Homo sapiens: one gene and its partner. The protein of the gene in region 1 interacts with the protein of each later gene in a pairwise test. Each region holds a gene or a part of one and is shown on either strand. Other genes may lie near its edges.

Region 1 (7,016 bases):
AATGCTGGAAAGCCAGGCATGGGGGTGCCCGCCTGTACTCCCAGCTAATCAGGAGGATGAGGCAGGAGAATCACTTGAACCCAGAAGTTTGAGGCTGCAGTGAGCAATGATCACACCACTGTACTGCAGTTCTGAGTCACAGAGACAGATCCCATCTCACTCTCTCTCTCTCTCTTTTTTTTTTTTTTTTCAGACAGAATCTTGGTCTATCGCCCAGGCTGGAGTGCAGTGGTGCGATCTCAGCTCACTGCGACCTCCGCCTCCTGGGTTCAAGTGATTCTCCTGCCTCAGCCTCCCAAGTAGCTGGGACTACAGGCACGCATCATCATGCCCGGCTAACTTTTTGTATTTTTAGTAGAGATGGGGTTTCACCATGCTGGCCAGGCTGGTCTTGAACTCATGACCTTGTGATCCGCCCACCTCGGCCTCCCAAAGTGCTGGGATTACAGGCATTAGCCACCGTGCCCAGCCAAATCCCATCCCTTAAAAAAATTTTTAGAGATCCTATCTCTTAAAAAAATTTTTAGAGATCCCATCTGTTAAAAAAAATTATTAAAAAAATGTTGGAAAGAGAAAGACCAAAGAGAGCCATGCCTTTTAAAGTCCTCCCTAAAGTGTCATCTTGCCAGCCCTTCCAGTCATTCACACAACAATCCTAGTCATAAACTGGGGCCATGCTTGCCATCACCAGGGGTCAGGAAAACTGGCCAGCTGAACCTGCTTGGATGGTGGAAGCGAGTGTGGGTGTTAGAGAAGGAGATGTCGGGACTCCGTGCTTGTCTGGAATCACTCCACCACACTCTGGTCAGTAGGTATAGGACTGACAAAGCCCTTCCTCAGAGATGCTGGGTCAGTGAGGAGACCCCAGCTTGTCTCAGCCATCTCACCCCACTCCCATTTTAGCGTCTGGGGGGAAACTGAGAATGAAAGTGACCTTGAGTAAACTAAACACAGTTTGGCTATTCATTATATGTATTCCTGTCTGTTCCTTTCTCATTCTGTCCTCACTGGGTTGTTTTTGCATCTGTCAAATAGTTCTAGGCTTTCCTCCCCATCAAACTCAGCCTTTTATGGATTTACATACCAGAGACTTCCAAGCCACAGTTCAGAAGTGATTTGTGGAGAAAGGAACAGTAAATTTGTGGAGAAATGAGCCTGGGAATGGATGCAGTGGCCAGGCTGTGGAGCCATTTATATCTACTTCTCCCTCTGCCGGAGGCTGTTTGTTTGAGTTGGCAGGAAGCCAATCAGATGCACTGGATCAGGGTGTCCTGTCCAAGGAGACAGGGGGCTATTTGTCTTCTCTCATGAGAGAGACAGTCGTGGGAGGAGGAGGGAAGCGCTTAAGAACAGGGATGGAGTAGATAGGGAAAAGATAGTCAATCAGATCTCTCAAGAGTATAGTCGGCCGGGTGCAGTGGCTCATGCTTGTAATCCCAGCACTTTGGGAGGCCAAGGAGGGAGGGTCACTTGAGTCCAGGGGTTTGAGAGCAGCCTGGGCAAGATAGGGAGACCCTGTCTTTACAAATAATTTTTAAAAGTTAGCTGGGTGTGGTGGTGCACATCTGTGCACCAAGCTACCTGAGAGGCTGAGGTGGGAGGGATCGTTTGAACCTGGGAGGTCGAGGCTGCAGTGCGCCATGATCGTATCACTGCACTCCAGCCTGGGTGACAGAGTGAGACCCTGTTTCAAAAGAAAGAAAGAAAGAAAGAAAAGTATATTCAAGGTGAGCTTCCTATTATTAGATATGGCCCAAGTGAAAACCTGGAGCTTGTCTGAATTGGACAGCCAAGGAGAGAGGCAGAAGAGGATTAGTGGAAAAAGCAGAAACTTCTAGGCTTGACTCAATGACTGTATTGTGCGTGATTTGGGGCAAGCCACCTTCCTCTCCATCTCCTCCTCTAGTAAATGTTCAGCATCCTGAGGTCTCCAGTTCTGAAAGGGTATGGTTCTTTTTTTTTTTTTTTTTGAGATGGTGTCTCACTCTGTTGCCCAGGCTGGAGTGCAGTGGCACGATCTCAGCTCACTGCAACCTCCTCCTGGGTTCAAGCGATTTTCCCACCTCAAGCCTCCCGAGGAGCTGGGATTACAGGCGCACACCACCATGCCTGGCTAATTTTTGTATTTTTAGTAGAGACAGAGTTTCACCATGTTGGCCAGGCTGGTCTCGAACTCCTGACCTCAGGTGATCCGCCCACTTCGGCCTCCCAAAGTGTTGGGATTATAGGTGTGAGCCATAGTGCCCAGCCTCTTTTTTTTTTTTTTTTTAACTCACAGAACATGAAATTATATGGTTTTAATAATGCAAAGCTACTTCCATGGGGCTACAGCAGAGAGAAAATAAGGCTAAAATGGAACTTAAAGCTCAAAACATTTCTACATGGCTGTTTACAGGGGCAGGTGGAGGGAGTCCTCCCTCTGCATTAATAGAAAACAAAAACAATTGGGCCTATTCGGCATTGTTGGAAATGTTCTATGTCTTGATCTGGTGGGTTTTTACCTGTGTACAATATATGTACACACGTAAAAATTCATTTAGCTGTACACATAATTTCTATGACTTTTTTGTATGTAAATTATACCTCAATGGAAAGGTTTTAAAATGGACTTAATTAGGCCCAGCATGGTGGCTCACGCCTGTAATCCCAGCATTTGGGGAGGCTGAGGTGGGCGGATTGCTTGAGCCCAGGAGTTCAAGACCAGCCTGGGCAACATGATGAAACCTCATCTCTACAAAAAAATACAAAAATTATCTTGGCGTGGTGGCGCACGTCTGTAGTCCCAGATGCTCTGAAGGCTGAGGAAAGAGGAGGATGGCTTGAACCCGGGAGGCAGAGCAGAGGTAGCAGTGAGCCGAGACTGCGCCACTGCACTCCAGCCTGGGTGACAGAGCCAGACTCTGTCTCAAAAAAAAAAAAAAAAAAAAGTTAATTAGACGGGTGTGGTGGTGCGCGCCTGTAGTCCTAGATAATTTCGAGGCTAAGGGGGAAGATCTCTTGAGCCCAGGTGTTCGAGGCTGCAGTGAGCTATGATTGGGCCACTGCACTCCTACTTGGGCAACAGATAGAGGCCTTGTCTTAAAAAAAAAATTTTAAAAAGGCCGGGCACGGTGGCTCACGCCTGTAATCCCAGCACTTTGGGAGGCCGAGGCAGGCGGATCACCAGGTCAGGAGATCGAGACCATCCTGGTTAACACGGGGAAACCCCGTCTCTACTTAAAATACAAAAAATTAGCCGGGTGTGGTGGTGGGTGCCTGTAGTCCCAGCTACTTGGGAGGCTGAGGCAGAAGAATGGCATGAACCCGGGAGTCGGAGCTTGCAGTGAGCCAAGATCGTGCCACCGCACTCCAGCCTGAGCGACAGTGCGAGACTCCGTCTCAAAAAAAAAAAAAAAAAAAAAAAAAAGACTTGAGAGAAAGTGAATTTCCATCCAGGAAGATTAAGGATCCCCTTCTGAGTACTTTAAAAAGGTTATCTATTTGTGCTGAGGGAAGAGGTAGAATATTAGGGAACCAATAAGATAACTTCTCTTTTGGAGAGGTTTCCAAAGTCCTTCTGTCCTCAGAAATTCTCATGTTCCTCCCCAGGGACAGAAAAATCCTCCTTGCTGTCTAATCTCCATCTCTCCTATTGCAATGCTAGCCACTCCCTCTGCCCTCATGGAGCCCAGCCTTTCCCCTGGCCTCAGACAAAATCTCTTTAGAGCCCTGTAATTTGGAGTGTTGAGAGAGATTCCATTTCAACCTTTTCACCATCCGTTCTCTGCCCCTCACCCTATTCTCTTCTTCTTGGGGATGTCAATTCCTGTTCTGAGCCCGCCCCCCACCCAGGCCCTTTTCCGGTGGTATGTGCCAGCCGGTCCTGCATCCCACATCCCCAGCTGTTGACATTTCATTGCCATTACCCACAGAATAAAGAAAGGGGCCCTGTTATTCAACAATAGGGGAAAAGACAGAGACAATGGGAAATTGTGCTTCCGATGGGGTGGGGACTGAGAAGGAAAGGACAGACAGACAGACAGACAGGGGGTTGTACAGAAGAGGTCCGGTTTCTTGAAGCAGCTGGAAGTCCTGGATAGTTCCCACCTGAAAGTCTGTTTGCAAAGGCAATGCGCACTCAGGCACCAGAGGGCAGAGGTGAGTACTCTGTTGTGGGGAGAGGGGAGATGGGGATGCTGCTTAGATGAGGCGCATATGGAAAGGGAGGCAGCTCGAGCTTGGCAGTTATGGATCTTTGAGCCACATTTAGAGTTCATCCCCATCCCCATCAGTCCAACACCTTCATATCCACCGATCAATCTACACCTCTCTGGTTCAAAGGCATCGAGAAAAAATGAAGCACCTCACTTTCTGCACTCTTCCAGGTCATCATTCCTGGGTTGCTCCCTTTATTCCACTCCCCTTCATGGGTTCCCAGCCCTCATCCCAACCCCAGCATCTTCCCCTGGTCCCGGAATAGTGATTTCCACAGATATAGTCACAGGGCTGGACACAGGTCTCTTAACATGGCTTAGTGGACTGATGGGGGTGGGGGTCGTTCTTGGCACCTTGGCTTCTTCTTTGAGCACAGGACAGAAGCTTTTCCTCAAAGGTGCAAAAGGAGCAACTGTGTTGAACAGGGGCTCAAGTTCCAGGGTTTTAAGGTGCTTGGAACTCCCAGGAGCCTGGCAAACCTTCATCCAGAACCTCTTCCTCAAGCAAGACAAAAAGCTGCTAAGCACTGCTCCCTCCGTCTCTGTGAAGAGACCAGCTTCTAACAGGTAGGCAATGGGCTGCTGACTACTCTCATTTTCTGTAAGAGGTATGAAGAGCATGTGTGTGCACTGTTTTGAAATGCAGAAATATAGATTAGTGATTAAGCGCTTGAGCCTCACTGTCAGATCTGTATTCAAATCCCAGCAAACCCTTCCTCTTACTAGCTGTGTGACCTCATTTCCTAAAATAGGTGCACCTTGGTTTCAGCATGTGTACAGTAGGATTTATAATTGTTTCTGCCTCAGGATTGCTGGGAGGAGTAAATATAAAAATATACATGTAAAGTGCTTAGAGCAGTGTCAGGCACATTCAATTTTAAACGTGTTCATTTGAGCTATCATTATTGTTGGTCTCAGTCAATCTCAGTCCTCACGATCATTCTTACTTATCAAGTTCTCCTATAAAGAAGTGGTTCTCTTGCTCATGTTCGCATCCCAGATACTTTCACCTTTAACCACTGAGAAGTTTTCTATGCATAACCTCCGTTTCTCCTACTGCAAACTGGTCTTTGGTCCTCATTTGCAGAAAGATGGAGCTCCATTCTTTAGATTTCTGGCAACTTCTCAGGGTGCTTCCTCCATCTCCCCATTCCCCATCCCATCTTCCCATGAATCCTTAATGTAAGTTCATTAAACCATACACACTTATTTAGCACCTACTATGTACCAGAAACTATGCTGGGAACTGGAGATAACAGCTAACACATAGACAGCACTTATTACATTCCAGACACTATTTCAAGCATTTTGCGTATATCAATTTATTTATTCCTCACAACTACTCAGTGAGGTAGGTGTGCTATTATTCCCCACATTTCACTGATGAGGACACTGAGGCAGAGAGAGGTTAAGGAACTTGTGCATGATAATTAACTTATGCATAGTCATGCAATTAGGAAATAGAGTAGCCAGATTTGGAAAACGAATGCAGTGAAGTCAAGAAGTCTTCATTTTTTTTTTTTTTTTTTTTGAGACAAGGTCTTGCTCTATCCCCTAGGCTGGAGTGCAGTGGCACAATCTTGGCTCACTGCAGCCTCCACCTCCTGGTTTCAAGCGATTCTCCTGCCTCAGCCTCCCGAGTAGCTGGAATTACAGGTGCATGCCACCACGCCCAGCTGAATTTCGTATTTTTAGTAGAGACAGGGTTTCACCATGATGGCCAGGCTGGTCTTGAACTCCTAATCTCAAGTAATCCACCCGCCTCAGCCTTCCAGTGTTGGGATTACAGGTGTGACCCACTGTGCCTGGCCCAGTCCAATTTTTTTTTTTAAGGTCAGAGGGATAAGAATGATACAATAGGTGCTGGAGGCGATGGCTCACACCTGTAATCTCAGCATTTTGGGAGGCCAAGGAGCGTGGATCACCTGAGGTCCGGAGTTCTCAAGACCAGCCTGGCCAACATGGTGAAACCCTGTTTCTACTACAAATACAAAAATTAGCCCGGAGTGGTGGTGGGTGCCTGTAGTCCCAGCTACTCAGGAGAATCGCTTGAACCCGGGAGGTGGAGGTTGCAGTGAGCTGAGATGGTGCCATTGCACTCCAGCCTGGGCAACAAGAGTGAAACTCCCTCTCAGAAAAAAGAAAAAAAAAAAAAAAAAGAATGTTACAATAAAGGAGGAGCTGGGTGCAGTGGCTCAAACTTGGGAGGCTGAAGTGGGAGCATTGCTTGAGCCCAGGAATTGGGCAACCTAGTAAGACCCTGTATCTGATTAAAAAATTTTTTTTACCGGGAGGTGGAGCTTGCAGTGATCCAAGATCGTGCCACTGTGCTCCAGCCTGGGCAACAGAGCGAGACTCCATCTAGAAAAAAAAAACACAAAACAAATTTAAAGGGGGGAATAACTACAGTACTGAAATAGATAATTGCATTTGAAGTAGTTTTTAAAAATAACTTTATAATTTTATATTTTTTAACTTCATAATTTCTGTATCTATATGTGGATACATATTATGTTCAAATTCACACTGTTAAGTTTAGGTGCTAATAAAAGTACTTGTAAGACAAAAAAAGTCCTGGCTGGGTGTGGTGGCTCATGCTTGTAATCCCAGCATTCTGGGAGGCCAAGACAGATTACTTGAGCCCAGGAGTTCAAGACCAGCCTGGGCAACATTCTGAAACTCCATCTCTACAAAAAATAGAAAAGAAAAAAATTTAGTGGGGTTTCATGGTGTGCGCCTGTAGTCCCAGCTACTCAGGAGGCTGAGATGGGAGGATGGCTTGAGTCTGGGAGGGCGAGGCTGCAGTAAGCCATGATCATACCA
Region 2 (7,037 bases), on another chromosome or scaffold:
TCCCAAGTAGCTGGGATTACAGGCACTTGCCACCACACTCGGCTAATTTTTGTATTTTTAGTAGAAACGGTTTCACCATGTTGACCAGGCTGGTCTCAAACTCCTGACCTCAAGTGATCTGCCTGCCTTAGCCTCCCAAAGTGCTGGGATTACAGGCATATGCCACCATGCCTGGCCATAAATGGAGCATATGTTCTAGAGAAAATGAAACAGGAAGAGGGAGCAGGGAGTTCACAATGGGATATAGTTTTAAATAAGGTCATCAGAGGAGATGCTCGTTGAGAAGAAGCCATTTGTGCAAAACCTTGAAGGAAACGATGCAGCAAGTACTGGGGATTTACTGAGGGAAGAGTGTCTTGGGTGGGCGGGAGTAGCCAATGCTCCTCCCAGCCAGGAGCCTCCTCTCAGGAGGTGCATGCCCAGAACAGCAAAGAGGCCACCATGGCTGGAGTGGAGCAAGTAGAGGAAATATGTCAAAGAGGCTCCTGAGAACCTTTTTAAGCATGAGGCCTTTTAAGCCATTGCAGGGATTTTGGCTTTACTCTGAGATGAAGAGCCATTGGACAGATTTGAGATGAGGAAGTCATAGATCTTGTGCTATGATGTGTTATTGTCACATATTCTTTCAAGAGGGTGAATTACTAAGCCTTTGTTCTAGCTCATCTTGCGGTAAATATTTTCTGCCCAGTTAGGAGGAAGAACTAGTGATAAATGACCCAATATTTTCTCTTCTCTTCCTTCCACACCCCAGATCTGTTGTGTAAATGCAAAGAACATTATTACTGTTAATGTAATTATTTATTAAGCCACATCTCTAAGTAACCAAAAGCCATCAATAATTTTAGGCTTTCTGCAAAGTCTCTCAATCCTGATTTAAAGTGTTTATTTATGACTTATTTTGGTACTTCTTCCAAAAAAAAAAAGATGAGAAGGTGAGGTTTAAAATGAAAAACATTTAAATTTAAAGGCTATGAAAATAAAACTTAAAAATTAAAATTATGTAGGAAGAAGTAGCAATCCATACAGATGACTATTGTCAAGTGATTTACCACTCAATTTACCCATAAGCGGAATTCACGGTAACCAAACTCAGAAGGAAAACAACAAATAACATAATTATCTTTGTCTGATTTTTCCAGACAATAGCACTCACTAGTCCTTGTACTTCTTACTCTCGTGCAGGCTATCCTGTGAACTTATGTTTCATAATGTCCTTTTTCTTTGCAAAACAATTACTTTCTAAAAATAAACTGGTCAATATAAATTTCACCTTATTTCTACTAGGTTGCTTGTTTATTTAGGCGGTGTCATTTCTGCTGAAAGAATCAACTTCCTGCTAAAATTGTTAATTCACTCACTGTAGGCATTAAAATCAAGGTTGACGGGCCGGGCGCGGTGGCTCATGCCTGTAATCCCAGCACTTTGGGAGGCCGAGGCGGGCAGATCACCTGAGGTCGGGAGTTCGAGACCAGCCTGACCAACATGGAGAAACCCTGTCTCTACTAAAAATACAAAATTAGCTGGGTGTGGTGGCACATGCCTGTAATCCCAGTTACTTGGGAGGTTGAGGCAGGAGAATCACTTGAACCCAGGAGGCAGAGGTTGCTGTGAGCCGAGATCGCACCATTGCACTCACCTAAGCAATAAGAGCAAAACTCCGTCTCAAAAAAAAAAAAGAAAAAAGAAAATCAAGGTTGATGTTACATTTTCTTTTCTTTTTTTTTTGAGACGGAGTCTCGCTCAGACTGTTGCCCAGGCTGGAGTATAGTGGTGCGATCTCGGCTCACTACAACCTCTGCCTCCAGGGTTCAAGTGATTCTCCTGCCTCAGCCTCGCCAGTAGCTGAGATTACAGGCATCTGCCACCATGCCTGGCTAATTTTTTTTTTGTATTTTTAGTAGAGACAGAGTTTCATCACGTGGCCAGGTTGGTTTCAAGCTCCTGACCTCAAGTGATCCGCCCATCTCAGCCTCCCAAAGTGCTAGGATTATAGACGTGAGCCCCCGTGCCCAGCTGATTTTACATTTTCAATTGTCTGTTTCACTAGATTGTCTGCTACCTACCTTGTATCCTCTAACAGATAGTGTTCAGTCCCCTACCCCCAACTCTAAAATCTAAAAAACTCTGAAAACAGAAGTTTATGAAAAGTTGTTACAAACTCATTCAGAAGCAAAAACTTGAACTGAAATAAAGACAATTTAAAAATCTTCATTTGTCCAACTTGCGAATATTTGCATGTTTTGCTACAGAAGTGGTAATAGGTTCAATTATGGGTGCCCTGCAGATTCCGCTGGGAGTTATGTAACATTTAGTACACGCATCTTACTACTTTTCCAAAATTTGAAAATATAAATTCCAAACCACATCTTCCTCCAAAAATTTCAGAAAAGGGATTGTGGACTTGGCAATAGCCAATCCTGGGATAATGATTGGAATAATGTAGGTGCCTAGTAAATGTGAATTGAAGTTTGATTAATATGAGATACTTAGAAATTAGAAACATTTCTGCAGCCAGGTCTTGTGACCTTGAGACCTCAGAGAATAAAATAGATAATTCAGTCTTTAGAAGCAGGACACCAAAATGTTTCCTTAATTGTTCTCTTAAGGTAGTAGTAATTGATCTTAGGTCAGGCTAATAAATCCAGAAAGAATGAAGTGTTACCCTATCAGTCAAAATTGTTCCTATTAGTATCCTAGAAGGTGCTTTTTATGCCATTCACATATTTTGCATGTTGTCTCTGTATCTGTACTTATCACTTTGTATCTTTCTGTTTTTTGTTCAACATTTTTTAAAGGTGTCACATCAGCTTTTTTAATACTGGTGATTTAATTGCAAAAGCACACATAAACAGTTTGAAAGGTGTGAGAAGAAATTCGTAAGTCACATGGGGAAACAGCAACAAAGCTAGCATTCAGTCTGGAATGCATCCACTGTGCAAAACAAATTCAACTGCCAGTGGGTCAAATGGTGTATCCTGAGATTGAGTGAAAAATGAGTTTGATACAAGAAGCGCTTGTTTTATACAAAGGATACAGTGGGAAATATCAAGATGAGATGAATATAGGCTGTACCCTCACAAAGCTGAAGCTTAATAGGGAAAGCAGAACATGTATATAAAATAATAAACTACATAGCAGAACATACCAGACATCATGTGAAGATGAGTGGGGATAGGTTAAATGGAGAGGATGGACTTGCAGAATACATGGATGAGAAGGACGGAATTTTCGCTGTCAAGCAGTGTTGACTAGTAGAGATACACATAAACACATAAATTATTATGGAAAATGGTAAATAACATAATAGGAGCTAAGGAACCATAGATAAGTATAGAAATCCTTGGGGAAGGTAGGCAGGAATTGATCTTCAAGCTGGTCTTGAGGGACACAAGATTTTGCCCAGAAGGCTTGGAGGTAGGTCAAGGAATCTGTTCTGGGCAGAGTAAATAAGATGCTTGTTGTTTGAAGTATCACTAACAGAACAGTTACATACAGTAACTCTTTATATTTTATTGTCATTGCAGGTGAATCAAACATCCCTTCTGGAACAATACAGAGTAGGAAAGGTTTGCAGAATAAGAGTCAGTTTAGGACCATTGCACCAAAAATTGTGCCCAAAGTCCTAACGTCCAGAATGCTGCCATGTCATTCACCATCACGCTCTGATCAGGTGAATCTGGGACCCTCCATCAACTCCAAGCTGCTGGGGATGTCCACCCAGAACTATGCCCTGATGCAGGTTGCTGGCCAGGAGGGGACATTTTCTCTTGTTGCTCTGCCACATGTTGCCTCAGCTCAGCCAATTCAGAAACCCAGAATGTCCCTACCTGAAAACCTGAAACTTCCTATTCCTAGATATCAACCCCCTAGAAATAGCAAAGCATCAAGAAAGAAACCCATCCTGATCTTTCCTAAGAGTGGCTGTAGCAAAGCTCCTGCCCAAACCCAAATGTGTCCTCAGATGTCCCCTTCCCCACCTCACCACCCTGAACTCCTGTACAAACCCAGTCCATTTGAGGAAGTACCATCACTAGAGCAAGCCCCAGCCAGCATTAGCACAGCTGCGCTGACCAATGGAAGTGACCATGGGGACTTGAGACCACCAGTGACCAACACCCATGGCAGTCTGAACCCTCCTGCTACCCCAGCATCATCCACACCAGAGGAGCCTGCCAAGCAGGACCTCACAGCTCTTTCAGGGAAAGCACACTTTGTAAGCAAGATAACATCTAGTAAACCTTCTGCTGTTGCCAGTGAAAAATTTAAAGAACAAGTTGATCTTGCAAAAACCATGACCAATTTATCACCAACCATTCTTGGCAATGCAGTTCAGTTGATCTCTTCAGTCCCCAAAGGGAAACTGCCAATCCCACCCTACTCAAGAATGAAGACAATGGAGGTTTACAAAATCAAATCAGATGCTAACATTGCAGGTTTTTCTTTACCAGGACCTAAGGCCGACTGTGATAAGATACCCTCCACCACAGAAGGCTTTAATGCAGCCACCAAGGTGGCAAGCAGGCTACCTGTTCCACAAGTGTCACAGCAGAGTGCCTGTGAAAGTGCCTTTTGTCCACCCACCAAACTTGATCTTAACCACAAAACAAAACTGAACAGTGGAGCAGCAAAGAGAAAAGGAAGAAAACGGAAGGTACCAGATGAAATTTTGGCATTTCAGGGAAAAAGGAGGAAATATATCATTAATAAGTGTAGAGATGGTAAAGAAAGAGTAAAAAATGATCCCCAAGAATTCAGAGACCAAAAGCTGGGGACCCTGAAAAAATACCGTAGCATTATGCCCAAACCTATCATGGTCATACCCACTTTGGCCTCCCTGGCTTCTCCAACTACACTACAGTCCCAGATGCTTGGGGGCCTAGGACAGGATGTTTTGTTAAATAATTCACTCACTCCTAAATATCTTGGCTGTAAGCAAGACAACAGCTCTTCCCCTAAGCCCAGCTCCGTGTTCAGAAATGGATTCTCTGGCATTAAGAAGCCTTGGCACAGATGTCACGTCTGCAACCACCACTTCCAGTTCAAACAGCACCTTCGAGACCACATGAATACACACACCAACAGACGCCCTTACAGTTGTCGGATTTGTCGCAAGTCCTATGTACGTCCTGGCAGCCTGAGCACACACATGAAACTTCATCATGGTGAGAACCGTCTGAAGAAACTCATGTGTTGTGAGTTTTGTGCAAAAGTGTTTGGCCACATCCGAGTCTATTTTGGCCATCTGAAAGAAGTGCATAGGGTTGTGATCAGCACTGAGCCTGCGCCCAGTGAACTGCAGCCAGGAGACATACCAAAGAACAGAGACATGAGTGTGCGAGGCATGGAGGGATCATTGGAGAGGTGAGTGCCAATGTAATGGAGACCTGGCAAGAGAGTCTGTTTTGATTTGGGGAAGAGGGGAAGATTTCATATTCAGAAAGGAGAGTTTATAAAACATCTCTAGGATTAAGATTTCATAAAGTAGCTATGTATACCTCCTAGATCTGTGAAGAATGATCTTGTTTCTCTCTGGTTTCTGATCATCCATACTTGGAATTACCCTAACCAATCTAGTAAAGTACTGTATATAGTTCCAGTGGTCTTTACAAGTAATTTCCCCCAAAATCACATCCACAGAATTTGCGTTATTTTAAACAGCATCATTTGCCCCAAAATGCGGCATGACCCATGGTTGGGGACTCAGAGTGGGTGGGTCTGTCATGTTGACCCTACCTTAAGGTGCCCAGACCCCACCCTCTTCATTTGCCCTGTTTTTCCCATCAGTTCGGGTTCACTCTTTCTGGTGTCATTCCTTTTTGCAAGCACTGCTTCCTGGTATTATTGCTATGGGATCCTTGGGGTGTCATTTCACCAGCCGGAAACCTCTGTGGCCAGTGGCGCCTTGGCCTGAGTTTTGCTCTGGCCCATTAGGCTCGTTCCACCCACTTGGAACCTAGCAGGCTGCACTCAGCTCATGCTACCGGCCTAGATCCCATGCCTGCCAAGGGCGAGCCAGGCACAGAGTGGTGAGGGATGTGTGAGTGAGCGTGGGGTCTGGCCACTGCGCATAGGCAGGCACGCCGGCTGCTGCTGCAGGCCAGGCAGCTCCAGGTGCCACCTCCTTGCAAGGCTGTGGCTGGACCAGGCACATCACAAGCAGCTTCCACGGTTGGCACCAGGAACATGATGTTGCCCAGAAGCTTGGAGACTAGGGAGTCACTGCCCTGGCTCAGGGGGCTCCCAGGACAGAGCTCCCCAAAGGGCCGCAGCTCTTCTCTTCACCTGCTGTGTGGCAAGCAAGAGGCGTGTTTCAGCCTGTTTGTGTTACAGCTCTCTTAGCCCCACCATTTGGCAGGTCTCAAGTTCTTGTCCTGCGTTCAGGAAGAATGAGGTACACAGAGAAGTAGAGGGTGAGCAAGATGAAGAGGAGCTTTATTGAGTGATAGAACAGCTCAGAGTTGAACTGCAGGGGGCAGTTCCTCTCTGCAGGCAGGTTTTCCCCGTCATCTCTTGTGCTCTCAGCAGAGAGGGTAGCTCCTCTCTGCCACTGGTCGTCCCATTGTCTCTTCAAGTCTGGCTAAGTCCGGGGCTTTTATGTGCCTCAGAGGAGAGGAAATGCGTGCAGTTGGTCCATGGGCAGTCATGGACAGACCCAGAAAAGCACCACAAGTTCCCACTCCAGTCCACATGACTGGCAACCTGGCCCCCAGGCTTCAGGGCTTCTCTGGCTTGAAGGTGGGGCTTCACCGGGGACCTCCCCTTTTCTGCCCAGGAGCTTCTTTGCTCCCTGCTTCTGTTTATGGCACCCAGGCTGTTCATGCTGAGGGGGCACCTGCAGGCTGGCACCGAGCTGTCCTGAGCACCCCTTCCTCAGCCTCCCTTCCATGCTTATTGGCACCCAAAGTCTGGAGCAGGCCAATGGGGTAGGAGGTGGGCATATCAGCACTGCCTCAAGCGTGTGCACACCCAACCAGGTTACAGCAGAGCCCAGGCTCAGCCCCAGCCTTGCTTTGAGATTGGAGCAGGTGCTGACAGCA

Evidence for each region.
Region 2: the proteins of HAPLN2 (region 1) and ZNF438 interact in binary tests that used the Homo sapiens proteins (3 or more experiments, as listed by UniProt).

The regions. Positions count from the first base shown.
Region 1 is NC_000001.11:156,615,399-156,622,414, forward strand, and holds the start of HAPLN2 (hyaluronan and proteoglycan link protein 2 precursor), read left to right. Parts: upstream 1-4,016; 5' UTR 4,017-4,109; coding exon of another isoform or gene 4,110-4,137; intron 4,138-4,570; coding exon of another isoform or gene 4,571-4,760; intron 4,761-6,481; exon of another isoform or gene 6,482-6,530; intron 6,531-7,016. UniProt on the Homo sapiens protein: Mediates a firm binding of versican V2 to hyaluronic acid. May play a pivotal role in the formation of the hyaluronan-associated matrix in the central nervous system (CNS) which facilitates neuronal conduction and general structural stabilization.
Region 2 is NC_000010.11:30,846,855-30,853,891, reverse strand, and holds part of ZNF438 (zinc finger protein 438), read left to right. Parts: intron 1-3,524; coding exon 3,525-5,361; intron 5,362-7,037. UniProt on the Homo sapiens protein: Isoform 1 acts as a transcriptional repressor.